Homo sapiens: one gene and its partner. The protein of the gene in region 1 interacts with the protein of each later gene in a biochemical or structural test. Each region holds a gene or a part of one and is shown in the gene's direction. Other genes may lie near its edges.

What was found.
Region 2: the proteins of SLIT2 (region 1) and ROBO1 are reported together in a solved structure, tested with the Homo sapiens proteins (one study listed by IntAct).

The regions. Positions count from the first base shown.
Region 1 is NC_000004.12:20,590,881-20,598,258, forward strand, and holds part of SLIT2 (slit homolog 2 protein isoform 1 precursor), read left to right. Parts: intron 1-4,816; coding exon 4,817-4,954; intron 4,955-5,534; coding exon 5,535-5,775; intron 5,776-7,378. UniProt on the Homo sapiens protein: Thought to act as molecular guidance cue in cellular migration, and function appears to be mediated by interaction with roundabout homolog receptors.
Region 2 is NC_000003.12:78,630,647-78,638,024, reverse strand, and holds part of ROBO1 (roundabout homolog 1 isoform a precursor), read left to right. Parts: intron 1-1,916; coding exon 1,917-2,252; intron 2,253-3,982; coding exon 3,983-4,090; intron 4,091-6,719; coding exon 6,720-6,864; intron 6,865-7,378. UniProt on the Homo sapiens protein: Receptor for SLIT1 and SLIT2 that mediates cellular responses to molecular guidance cues in cellular migration, including axonal navigation at the ventral midline of the neural tube and projection of axons to different regions during neuronal development.

The DNA.
Region 1 (7,378 bases):
AGGATTTATACTTACCAGTTGGGTGATTTTTCTACTATGTGTTACCTATAAGAAATTTTATAGTTTATTAACATTACAGTTGGTATTGTGTAGCAAATAGGCTGGATTCTTAGGAATTACACAGTCGGGTACAGGGGTTGAGCTGTGCTTTCATCAGACAGCTAGCAAATAGCATTATCTGTTCCTTCAAGCAATATTTATTGAGTGCCTGCCATGGCCACAGCACATGGTAATAATACCATCTTATGATTTTGTAGTCCTTTATAGCTATTCACCTTCACTTAATTCATCTTCTTAGAGAAATGACCCAAGCTCAATTGCCATAGAATTCAGGGAATTAACAATTACACAGGTCGGGATGAATTTTATAAGAGAAGATGGAATTTGAGCTGGATTGCTAAGATATTTGTACTTACCGAACAGATCATCAGATATTTTAAGTCGGGTGGGAGAGTGGGGTCAGAATCGCCAGATCCCCACTGCTTTTCAAATATCAATCTAAATTAAATATTTATTCTCAAGCTTTCTTTTGACAATGTGCTTTTGCTTTAATTTGGTTTAAAATCCAAAAATGTAGAATATGTAGGTACAGTTGTAGCACCTGCTAATTCCCTACAATGTCTTTTTGAAAAAGGAAAGAATAAATTTGATTCTATTTTGCATTATATTTTAGTTTACAACCCTAGGCAAAAACCCAGTGTTATTCCATTTTCACTTTATACAAAACTTTACATTATATTTTATTCAACCAAACACTGTAGGTAAGTTGTTTTTAGTCTTCATATCAATGATGCGCTCACAATTTAATTTGGCAAATTGAAAACACATCACTTACATAATAAATATCATTTCTTAGAGAAATTAGCTAGTAAGGAAAGTTTTCCAGAACTGCTCATCTGCTGAACAGATGTCACAGTACTTTGTGTATTGTAAGTATAAGATAAAGTATTAGTAAGACTTAACTGAAACTATTAGAAAGTGAGTTTGTCTGCAAAAAGACTAATCCTTAATTAAATATCTCCTCTCGCCATCAAATAAATTAGACACTCTTAAAAGTGCATTTTGCTGCATTATGGACTAACTCATTTGGAAACCCACTGTTTTCCATTATAGTTTGTAAGCTCGTTTCATAGCTGTATGTAGGTAGTTTAGCAGAAAACGGTTAGGTCAGTGTGTGTGCTGTTACTCCCGACATTGTGGGAAAGGTAGCTGTGGAAAGAAAATAGACGTAAAAATCAAATTCTGTGAAGCTGCTAAAGAAAATCTCTACTGACAAATGTTGTTTAGACAAGTTATGCTATGCTACTTCAACTTCATTTTCTTATTACTAAGCTAACAGAGCTGGTTTTACTTTTATTGCTTTATTATATACCTCATAAATCTCCCAAATTGCTTTGAGATATTTTTAGACTATGATATGCCATAAGCAGTATTTTCAAACCTGCATCTTACATAGCCAGCTTTGGGCTTCTAAACAGTGTATTTTATATTCTTTGCTTCTTCCTCTCTCCTTGTCAGATAATAGAGTTGAAGGAATGTGATAGGTTTTATTGATAATACAAACTCAGGAATTCTTATTTAAATTTTTCTTTCTGTTTTGAAACTCAGTCTGAGGAGCAAAAGAAAGACAAAAATGTTGGACATAATGTAACTCCAAGCTCTAATGGTCTTGAAAAATAGTATTTGGAGAGAAGGGAATATAAAATAGCTCTTAGACAGCCGCTATGGTGGATGTGTTGTTCTCTTATCTTTCACTTTGATTTCTTTTTTCAGATAAATAATTCAGAGTGTTTCAAAGCATTTCTTCTTTTTTTTAATGCTTGGCACTTCAACAGCTCTGCTCACATTAACATTGATGGAAGTTCTCTTCTCGGGCCTTGTCCATCTCTTTGAGAATGTATATGGCCACTTAGAGTCTATTTAACTTCAGACTTGTTGTTTACTTTGCTTTGCTATGATTTAGCATTAAAACCAACTGGCTGCAAAGCAAGCATGCTTATGCAGTGAGCTCATTTTATTTCTTAATTCATACATGCAGAGCTGAAAGTCTGTTTGCTACTCTTAGAGGCTATATACTCCCATTTGTTTTAATTCTTCCGCTCTCCAGCAACTCTCAAATCCTGATTTAGCATTTTCAGACAAAACCTTAGGCATTCAGTAATGCCACATTCACTTGGGTGTTTTTAATTATCCTTACTTCAAATCCTAATAGCTTTGAAATAGAAAAGTGGATAATTAATACAGACTAAACCATAAAAGCTTTTATAGAATTATAAAGACTATATAGAGAATTATTTTAAAAACCAGCCATTTATAGAACGTGCATTATATATAAAAACTATACTAATTAATTTACAGATGGATGCGTTTAATCTTTAAATAAACCTGTGAGGTGGAATTATATACGTGTTAAAGATGAGGAAAATAACACTTACAGAGATTAAGTAATTTAGTCAGTATTATATATACTTTATGCTAAGTGAAATAGGCCAGACATAGTAAGACAAATACCGGATGATCTCACCTATATGTGGAATTTTAAAAAGTCAAACTTATAGAAAAAGAGAGTACAAGAGTGGTTACCAGGAATTGGGGTGGGGAAAATGGGAAGATGTTGGTCAGTGGCACAAATTTTCAGTTACAAGATGAATAATAAGTTCTAGAGATCTAATATCACAGCATGGTCACTATAGTTCATACTGTATTATATACTTGAAATTTGCTCAGAGAGCAGATCTGAAATATTTTCACCACAAAAGGAAAAGGGTAACTATGGGAGGTGATGGATATGTTAATTAGCTTGACTGTGGTAATTATTTCACAATGTATGTATGTATAAAACATTACCATGTACATCTTTAAAATATAAAGATTTTATTTTTCAATTATACCTCAGTAAATCTAGAATAAAATAAAGTTGATAACATACAATTAAGAATGAAGCCGGGGTACAAACACAGTTCTGTAAAACCTGAATTCTGCAAAGCCTGAATTCTGCAGAGCTAAGTTATAGTTTTCTCATATATACACACATATATATACACATATATACATACACTGCTACATACACAATACATATGTGTGTATGTATATGTATATACACATGTACATACATATACACACACATACATATGTATGTGTGTATATATGTGTATATATGTACATATGTACATATTCTGCAAAGCCTGAATTCTGCAGAGCTAAGTTATACTTTTCTCATATATACACATATATATACACATGTGCATATATATACATATATACACACATACATATGTATGTGTGTATATATGTATGTACATGTGTGTATATACATATGTATGTATGTGTGTATATATGTATATGTATGTACATGTGTATATACATATACATATACATACACGCATATGTATGTGTGTATGTATATGTGTGTATATATATATATGTGTGTGTATATATGAGAAAACTATGACCTAGCTCTGCAGAATTCAGGCTTTGCAGTTATGTGTATATGTATGTATATATGTATGTGTATGTGTGTGTATATATATATATAAAGTCAGTGAACCCTCTCTTAAACTCAAATCAAAAACACTCTTGGAAGCCAATGTGTAAGCCTAATAAATCACAACAGGAGAGTGTTGAGGAAAAGGTGGAGGGTAGAGGGAGGCTTCCAGAAGACCCCTCCTCATAGATGGCCATACCTGTAGGGATTCTATGGTCCCCTATAGGTCCACAGTGCAGTTTGAAAACTGCTGCACGTGCCACACTGCCTTTCTTCATGCAGCTATAAAATCCTGCATCCTTGGTATCATAACTAGAGATCCCAGTGGTCAGCACTAGAGAAGTACAGGTTTAAAGGGAGCCTGTGGAATTAATTATTCAACAGCATAGTGCAGTGGTTAGAAATACAAGCTTTCTTGTTAGATTGCTTGAGTTTGATTCCTGGCTGTGGCACTTAGAAGTTGAGTGTTTGGGGGCAAAGTACTTCACCTCTTTGTTCCTTAGTCTCCTCACCTGTAGAGTGGGCAAAGTAATACCACGAATATCACAGGACTGTGGAGAGGATTCAGTGAATCCATAGAAGCCACATGGTTAGAGCAGGGCCAGAGGAAGTGCTCAGTGAATGTCAGCTGTATTATTACTCCTGGTTCCTCACCATCAATGCAGCCAAGACCCTTTACCACCATGGTGAACAGGCTGAAAACTGTCCGTGGGATTGGCCCCGTGAATTTTCTATCAGTTCTTCTATCCTAACCCATTATGTCAGTCCCGTTCTTCTATAATGAGTATCTGGATTCATTGTGAATTAGGGTATTTAATATTAATATATTTGCTTTTCTTAAAATAATACCTTGTTCTGATGTATCTAGTCTCTATTGTAAAATTAAAAATGTTAATCTTTTTTTAAATATGTTTAATATTTCCAGTAAATTTTACAACATAGCACTTTTATAATCTCAATGATCAAATGGATTAGGCCAAACTGAAAATATAGGGCACTGTAAGCAAACAAAATGGGGAAAAAGAAAGGAAGGAAGAGGGAGGAGAGTGGGTGGGAGGGAGTGACCCTGCTACAATTACCCTGTTCTTATTTGGGCTGTGGATGTTCACTATCAAGGAGATAAAATCACTATTTCTCTGGTAGATCACAGTGATAGAACATGGAACATACTGCAGAACAGTTCGATTTTCTAGGTATCCATTAATGTGGGGGCTCTATGAGCCTATTCTAAATAAGTATTTTAAAGATGGTGCCATTGTGTCTAGATAAAATGCATTGTTTACTTATTTTGGCTCAGTTGGGTTTGAAACCATTACCTGCTTGTTCCAACAGATGTGACTGCACACCAGGGTACGTAGGTGAACACTGCGACATCGATTTTGACGACTGCCAAGACAACAAGTGTAAAAACGGAGCCCACTGCACAGATGCAGTGAACGGCTATACGTGCATATGCCCCGAAGGTTACAGGTAAAAGCAGAAATGAATAAGACCTAGTGTTCAATAAGACCTAGCACAACAGGGTGACTATAGTCAGTAATAGTGTAATCGTACATTTTAAAATAACTAAAAGAGTATAACTGGATTGTTTGTAACACAAGGATAAATACTTGAGGGGATGGATACCCCATTTAACATGATGTGATTATTATGCATTACATGCCTGTATCAAAATACCTCATTTACCCCATAAATATATACACTTACTAGGTACCCACAAAAATTAAAATAAAAAAATTTTAAGACAAAAAACGTAGAACTTACAGAAGCAAAGAGTAGAATGAGGGTTACCAAAGAGGAGGACAGAGGGATGGTGTTTGGGGAGATGTTGGTCAAAGGGTACAAAATGTCATTTAGACAGGATGAGTAAGTTTGGAATATCTGTTGTACAGCACAGTGATGATTTTGTTTAATAGTTAAGAATACTTGAAAACTGGAAAAACAAGGAAGTGCACATATATAATATACAGTTATGTTATACAGCTCTCAATTCAGATTGGCAATTAAGTAAAATCGTATTAACTAATTTTTTTTTCTCCTTATTCTTCAGTGGCTTGTTCTGTGAGTTTTCTCCACCCATGGTCCTCCCTCGTACCAGCCCCTGTGATAATTTTGATTGTCAGAATGGAGCTCAGTGTATCGTCAGAATAAATGAGCCAATATGTCAGTGTTTGCCTGGCTATCAGGGAGAAAAGTGTGAAAAATTGGTTAGTGTGAATTTTATAAACAAAGAGTCTTATCTTCAGATTCCTTCAGCCAAGGTTCGGCCTCAGACGAACATAACACTTCAGGTAAGAGATCTCTCTCTATGGAGAGATGATCGGATCTTAAAATTCAGCTTCAGAGAATAAACATTTGTGGTAGCTTCTGAATGATTGATAGTATGTCTTAAATAGACAGTTAAAAACAGAAAATGCTCCTTGTGTGGACAGCGTTAGTAATTTTTCTCTTCAACATTTGTATTTTCAAGACAAAATGAAAAACAAATATTTTTATTCATTACTTGATAAGCAGACAGTAAAAAAAAAAATATGTCTCTTTGTTTTGTGCTCAGACAAAAACATTTGATTCATTTGCTTTTATGGCTCTGCAGTTCAGCCTCTGCATGGGGGAGGCTTTTCTTAGGAAATCTGCAGCTAGGAAGGGTGCAGGCGAGAAAGAACACCTGGATTCAACCACCAGCACCTTTTTTTTTGTTTTGTTGTTTTTTTTTTTTTTTGAGACAGAGTCTTGCTCTGTCGCCCAGGCTGGAGTTCAGTGGCGTGATCTCAGCTCACTACAACCTCTGTCTCCCAGGCTCAAGCGATTCTCCTGCCTCAGCCTCCCGAGTAGCTGGGACGACAAGCATGTGCCACTATGTCTGGCTAATTTTTTTGTATTTTTGATAGAGACAGGGTTTCACCATGTTGGCCAGGATGGTCTCGAACTCCTAACCTCATGTGATCTACCCACTTCGGCCTCCCAAAGTGCTGGGATTACAGGCGTGAGCCACTGCGCTCAGCCAACCAGCACCTTTTAACTCTTCACCCAGAACTTTGAAGAATTGACATGAAATTAACAAACTCAAATTTTAAGTCTTTCCACCAACTCACTGTATACCTTTAAGCAAGTCATTCAGATCCCTATGGAAGAAGCTGCACTAGATTAAAGATAATAAATATAGTGTACATGGGGCAAATTATGTCTACATATTTGTTTTATCTGATAAGCAAAATCATTTAATATATTTTTAATTCAAATGACTTTAGCCAGTTTCATGTAGACACCACCCCTTTTTTGGTTTACCCTGATACTCTAGTGAGGGACAGGGGATCCTTTTGAAGTCAGGAAGAAGAGAATCCTGGAAGGCATGATTCTCTACCTTCCAGTGTTTGCCCCACCAAATTGTTATGAGAACCACACAGTGATGTTGGGGCTTAAGTCTTAACTTAGCTAATTAATCCTTTAAAAGCCAAAATGGGCCAAAGAGCAGGATAAAAACAAAGATTTCCCCCTACACATGGCATAACTGTGAAGAATTTGTTGTTTTTAAATATGAGATATAAAAATCCATCTTTGACAATGTAGTCATTTTTCACAGATGCTATAAATAAAGCTTATAACGGGAGCAAAAGGAGCAGTTTAGCGAAAATCTGCAGCAAAGAAAGTTCTAAGCACATCCAACATGTTTACTTGAGGATTTCTTATTGTTCTTTTTAAGTTTCTTCATGGATTTATTTGCAACAAAGCAATTTAAGAACAAGTCACCTTTCAAGGAATAATTTCAGCATCGTTTTCTCATAGCCATCAGGAAAACATAAACCATAGTAAAACCTGTTCACCTCACTTAGCAGTCTCTTTCTGATCAAATACGTTTGGTTGCGTACACATCCTAGTAATGCCAGGGTTACTTTC
Region 2 (7,378 bases), on another chromosome or scaffold:
ATTACCAAAGATTTCTTACCAAACAACCCCTCCCCCCCCCAAAAAAAAACCCAATATTGCCAATATAGGAAATATTAAAATTATTGTATGGAATCTCTATGATGATAGAAGTAAAATAACCTGTGGAATTACGGAAAGGCGAGAGAGAAGTTGGATTTAAGTAAAGATGCTATGCACTATAAAGAACAAATCATAGAGCAGTCTGCATGTCTGCCCTTAAAGCGAATCCTGAGTGTCCACTGGACGTGGATGTGACGTATCCATGTGACCAAGTCTCTGTCCTCTAGAGGCCCATATTCTGAATGTCTAGACAGATAGATACTCATGTAATCATAAGTACAAGAAAAACTGGGTTGAGACCTATAGGAGAGAAAAAATGGCGATACCCATTTAATAGGTAGAGCTGTGTTGTCCAATATGGTAGCCATTGGCAACAGATGGCTATTTACATTGAATTTAATAAAATATAGTTTAAAACTCAGTCCCTCTTTTGCACTAGCTACATTTCTAGTGCTCAGTGGCCACGTGTGACTGGTGGCTGCTGTATCAGACAAAGTGGAGTAGACCATGTCCAATATCTCCAAAGTTCTGTTGGATAACACAAATATAGACAGATTGGCGAAACAAAATGAGAATGCAAAAACCACATGATCTTTATAGTATTTCTTAACCACTGTTAAACAAAACTAGAAATTAGAAATAAGAATCACAAAGTCCAGATGAATCAAATATTTCTGTTCCCTGACGGTTCATGGTTGAAATGCAGAATAGTTGAATTCAGTAGGATAGAGAAATTACACATTTTTCTTAAGATTATATTCACATTTACATCTTTAGTAACAAACATGTTAATTTATAATTTTTAAACATATCCAGTTAAAAACCAATGCTACAGGTGACTTGTTAATGTTGGTACCACTTTTGGACAACATGCATAAAATAATGACATTTTTACCATTGTAATTTAACTAATTTTTCTATTTAAAATCTATTTTAATTTAAAAATATGATTTCAGTTCTTCCTACCATTTTAATATTTTCAACTGCAGGCCATATATATATATATATATATATATATATATATATATAAAATGAATGTATATATTATGTATGTATATTCAGTTATTTAATGTCCAAATATTTCAATAGAGAGAAAACTGGAGTGGAAATGAGATATTAGATATTTAAGTATTATTTCAGGCTTATTTGATTCAATTACCCAGGTTACTATGATTCCTTTTGTTATTATTATTATTGTCATTTTATATTTCTTTGGTTGTCATTATGAAACCATGAGAAAATAATTATATAGCATGTTTTCCGGATAATGATTATCCAACAGGACTACAACAAGAACTAATAGAATTCTCCTTAGTACCATTTACTATCATTTTACCCCTGTTCCCATATCTTTTAAATGTAGGTATTTTATAAAATACCAAAATCTCAAGTTCTTTGATCTATGAATAGTTTTTTCCTTTGGATTTTTCATTTATGTGCTTTGTCTGTTGCTTCAGCAGCTAACCAGTAGCTTCAAATAATTCAGTAACCAAAGACTAGAAAATAAAAAGTTGACACATAAAGATATACATGTATATATTATTTTAGTGGAATTCCTATTAATGAGGTTATTAAATGAAAATTATTTTAAATTGGATGAATTGTTTACTTCAGCACTATCAGAAATTCAAATTTATTTAGTCTCTACAAATTCTGTGTACCCTCTTTTATTTTTTCAATTATTAATTTTCTTTAGAAAGCACATGTGGATATTTGGCCGTTTTTATTGATCTTATTTAAGCCCACTTGTACTTTACATAACGATTTTCTGATGACTCGCAAAGCTACGTAAAAAGAAATTTAAAAGGAATAACCACGCAGAATGATTTTTTCCTTTTCCTCTCCATTGCACATAGCTGATTGTATAGCAAATTATAACAACCAACTGGATAACAAACAAACAAATCTGATGCTCCCTGAGTCAACTGTTTATGGTGATGTGGACCTTAGTAACAAAATCAATGAGATGAAAACCTTCAATAGCCCAAATCTGAAGGATGGGCGTTTTGTCAATCCATCAGGGCAGCCTACTCCTTACGCCACCACTCAGCTCATCCAGTCAAACCTCAGCAACAACATGAACAATGGCAGCGGGGACTCTGGCGAGAAGCACTGGAAACCACTGGGACAGCAGAAACAAGAAGTGGCACCAGTTCAGTACAACATCGTGGAGCAAAACAAGCTGAACAAAGGTGAAGAGGCTTGCATGTATTCCCATCTGTTTCTGTATGATACTCTCAGCACCTCGACTAGATGTTGAAACTTGTCTGCGACTAGCAAGTAAAATCTTTTCTTCTGTCGCTGAGATTTTCTTATTTCTTTGGTTTCAAAATTTCCAGTGTCAAAGAGTTAATTAGCACAACAATAACCTTGGAAAATTTATTTTATAATAATATATAAGTATTTTCAAATGGTTTTGAGATTAATTTAAATTTAATAGCAGGTGAGGGATTGGGACGGACAATCTTTTATTCATGAGGCAGATGTACAACTGTCACAATACCTCGCATTTTCAATAAATAGACTATCCCATTCTTTCCACTAGAGGATGGAAGATAATTGCTTCTATGTGGTTATATAAACCAATGGCATTTTTATATCAACCTGAAATAAAATAATTAAATTAAACTTGAACTGGAGAAGTGGTTCAATTTGTTGTATGTCTCCCACCTCGTGTGGTTATTAAGACTGCTACAGTGTATAATTTTAGAACCTAAATTTCCTTGGTTGACCTGATTGAAGTCTGTCCGTATAGAACCTAAAATAAATTGAGTTTAGTATTAACTTGAAGCCGCAGAATAGTATTCTGTGGCCTGAAGGAAATGTTTCTGTATTGTAATGTGTATGAGTTGGAAAAGATAGGTGTTTGGTTTCTTTGTAGTCCTTTAGGCTACTGCTATAATATCATGATTTGCAAAGTTATACCTCTAGGAAAACCAGGATTGCTCTAATGTGAATAGATGGGGGCAATGCATCCCCACCTATTCCAGGTAAAGAATACACTGGAGATAATTGGAGACATAGACATTTTCTTTAGGTTTGGGTTGGGAACATTTTCTTTGAAAATGCGATTTATCACAGTTGAAGATGACAAAAATATAACTTAAAAATTTCATTTAAGTTAATATTATGTTTTAACTCGAGAATGAAGTCAGCTAGGCTTTTCTCAAGTTTAAGAAAGTACTTGATTGGTATAATAACCCAATTTAATAAATATGGATCGAGACTCCTGCATAAGTTCATAACAAAAACTGACAAAGATGAACAGGACAGTTTCTGTAATCATGGAGTTTGCAGTGGTGATTCAAACTATTGTCACATTATTCCTTCATAGTATATTGTTTTACTGTGGACTTCGGAAAGCCCTGAGAGCCTCCGCACAAATATTTCAGAACTCTGATTTATTGTTTATACTGCTTGTAAGCAGATTTGGTATGTCAGACCATAATAAAGAACCTGGAATGCAACTAGACGACAGATTATTACTGACTACATTCCAGTGGCAAGCTTATCATTTGGATTTTCACCTTTGCCTAAGTAAGCAGAAGCATTTCTGGGGCAAATTAAGATATTTGTTTTTTTTAATCATAGATATATTTTTTATTAGATATAACCTTGCTGACAGGTTTCAGTTTTATTTTTATGTATTGTGATTTATTTTTTATGATTTGCAGACATTTTTGTGATTCTTATTAAAATCATATTGATATTATATTATTAAAGTTATTTATAGTTTATATATATTTGGAGTATAAGCCTTTTTATATCCTGACAATCTGAATACAACAATAGAAGAGAAAAAAGGCAAATAAATGGTCCAATTTGTTTCTTTAGTTACTCAGAAATATAGAGAAAGCAGAGATGTGAAATCGCTCATGAAGAGAAAATAAATGTTTATTGTTTTTTCATCTGATATGTCTAGATTATCGAGCAAATGACACAGTTCCTCCAACTATCCCATACAACCAATCATACGACCAGAACACAGGAGGATCCTACAACAGCTCAGACCGGGGCAGTAGTACATCTGGTAAGTAAGATGAACCAAAGAACTTCTCCTTTAAAAAGCTGGTACTTTCCAAGATTACAAATTGAGTGCTAATGGACTGACGTATGTAGGTGACATGTCTAAATCACTGTATGTAATTTGAGTCTCAGGCATGTGTCTTGTCTCTGCAATTTGAGGGACTTTCCACTCACTAAATCATTTTATGTTCTATTTGGCAAAAAGACTAAGTGTCCTATTTTCTTCCTTGTTAATGAGCTTTAGCAAAGCCAGAAGAAACATGTCTGGTTAATCTTTAAAGGCAGTTGAAACTTTTTCCCCGTTGGCCAAAATATAACTAAAAATGTTGCACAGAGTTAACCTGCTAAATATGTTGCCATTTGAAACGAGCCTATAAAAGCACATAATGTTTGAGGACACTTGAGCAGAATCAAAAGCCGGAGAGACAATAACATGAGATTCAGGTACAATAGGAGCCTGTCTCAGTTTATCATCCCTCTACGATCCCTCAGTTCTTGCTCTGAAGCCTCGTAAAGCAACCTCCCAACCTCAGTCTGTAAGTGCCTCCCAAAGCCACATTGAGGCCTCTTCCCTGTGGTCTTCATGCTGTTACAGCTGTTTGCCAGCTGTTTTCCTGATAGGGGCTGCAGATGGGAGCTTGCTGGGTACTTAAGTCCTGTTTTTCTAATTAAAGGCAGTTCGTTATTAGAACTAACATGTGGCACATCACACCACAATGAGAACAAAACCGACTGATCTTGACTCTAGCAATGTTTCTCCAGGAGAGGGTAGAAATGCCACTTCCCAGCAACTGGATTAAAGTTGTTCTTAGGGGCTTTTAGCCAAGAGTCTCCACCCTTCTTCTGTAATGAATATGGCATTTGCATTTTACAGTTTTCCCTTAACTAACACGCTGGTCTGGCATTGTCTAGCCTGTGTTTCTGTTGGAATTAAGGGAGCTTAGAAATGGCCCTTTACCTTTTAGATTTACTCTGATTCTATTATATGTTATTTGTTTGTTTTAACAATTAACATCTTATTAAATGACTTCTTTTTTGAAGCTAAGTCAATCCTGAATTAAGAGAAATATTTCAAGGATCTACTTTTAAGAAAATCATATGAAATATTTTAATATTTGATTATCTTATGCCATTTGATCTTTGAATTTTTAGTCACATAGAGAAAACCATATCTTAATGGGAAAATAAACAATGATTCTAGGTTATTAATCTTTAATTGACCTTCAGCATCCCTCAGCTTAGATACCTAGATCTGGGTGTTCTACTGCTATATATCATTTGATATTCTGTGAATATATGGTAAAAAGATGTAAAGATGCGTGATGGTAATTAGGGAAGAGAACAAAGCAAGTAAATAAGGTATAGGAGAGATCTGTGATAGGCCTCTCCGGACTGATGGAGTTGCTACAGTAGATGTATATCAGGAAATCCAGAGGAAGATGTGGGTTAATGTCTAGTCTACAACACATGCACAGTTATCCCAATGCTGGACACCGGAGTGGTGGACGAGAGAAGTGAGAGACATACACATAGGACTGATAATCGTAGTTTATTAATAACAGCCTGTCCCTAGCCCACGCTTAGTGTGGTAACCTACCAGTACAAGAACATCTGGCTTAACAAACACTGCCATTTGACTGAAAATTCCCAAGTGACAAAAAAATCAAGGCTCATTGAATATGATCAGACCTGATTCATATATTACATGACTTGGAGAAGGATTGGATAGGGTTAAAAAACTAAGGCCAACATAATGCACTGATATAAAGGGAACTTATGAGAAAAATAATCATAGACTCATTGTCTATAATTCACATATGAATCAAAAATATAACATATTGGAAAGGGGATATTTTGTCCCAAAATATTTGTTGACCTAAAGTTTTTGTTAAAATAAATGCTCTCAAATATATAGCCTCTTGTGTTTAAAAAATATGCCAGATCTAAAATGAGAACACTGGAGCACTTGAATGATTGGGCTATGTCAAACTACTAAGAATGTTCAAGCAACATCATTTTACCATAAGCCATCATTGTACAGAAACAGTGGCTGAAAACACTTCTGTCCCTTTTAAAAATCATTTTTCTGCTTCTTTTGTCATTAGTTCTATCAGTTATTCCAGCTATTATTTCATCTGTACTTGCCTTTCTGAAGGGAACTAGTAATTTCATTGTGCCTAAAACATTTCAATGGACAAGTACAAATTATATATATTCAGTGATTTAATGCAACAGTGGAACTCTAATAGATCGTATCTGTATCATATTGTATTTTAAGTTCCAGCAATTAAATAATAGAAAGGCACTCGAGAAAATATATCTACAGCTCATTTGTTTGAGATGATAATCCATAATGCAATTAATTGCTGCAGGAAGATCACTATTAATGATATGACTTGAAACATTCATTCATGGTTTTATTGCTTTTTTGCTATTTATTTTGCAGTTATTCATGGCAGTACCTTGCATGTTCTCTTGTACAAAGTTCTGTTTAAAATTAATGAAAAAGCATGTTTATCTCTGTATATATAAATGAATTATAAAATCATATTTACAAAAAATAATTAACTTGTGACTAATGGAAAAAGTTTAAAGGCCAGAGATCAATGGCTTCTATTTTATTTCCTTTCTAGGGAGTCAGGGGCACAAGAAAGGGGCAAGAACACCCAAGGTACCAAAACAGGGTGGCATGAACTGGGCAGACCTGCTTCCTCCTCCCCCAGCACATCCTCCTCCACACAGCAATAGCGAAGAGTACAACATTTCTGTAGATGAAAGGTAAGAGGAGCATCCAAACAGATGTAAACAGTGTAATATGATTGTTTCAGCCCATTTTCAGCAATTATTATACTAGGTGGTCAAGAGAAGACTGATTCCTAAGGTCCACAAACAGTTGCCTTTAAATAAAATAGTGCTGGTCAGCAGGAAGTAAAAATTCTCCTTGCTGCTTCCAAAAAAGCAATCTGTGCTTTGAAAGATTCTTTTGGAACTTAGAATGGAATATAAAAATGATACATATTAGCTCATGTATCTATCCTGTGTGTGTATACGTAATTTAACATATGGATATATAATTTTGTGATTTTTGAGTATTAGAACTTCTGTGACAGGTCTTGAAATTTTTGAAAGATAATCGTGTGAATTTATACCACAACGATGGGATCCTGAAGGCTATTTGTTCTTAGATATTATCACCTTATGCTGAGAACTCTGTAGAAATGTAAACTTTACTGGATTGTTTCTCCCAAAGACTTAACAAGTATAATAATCCACATGATAGCAATTAGGAAGC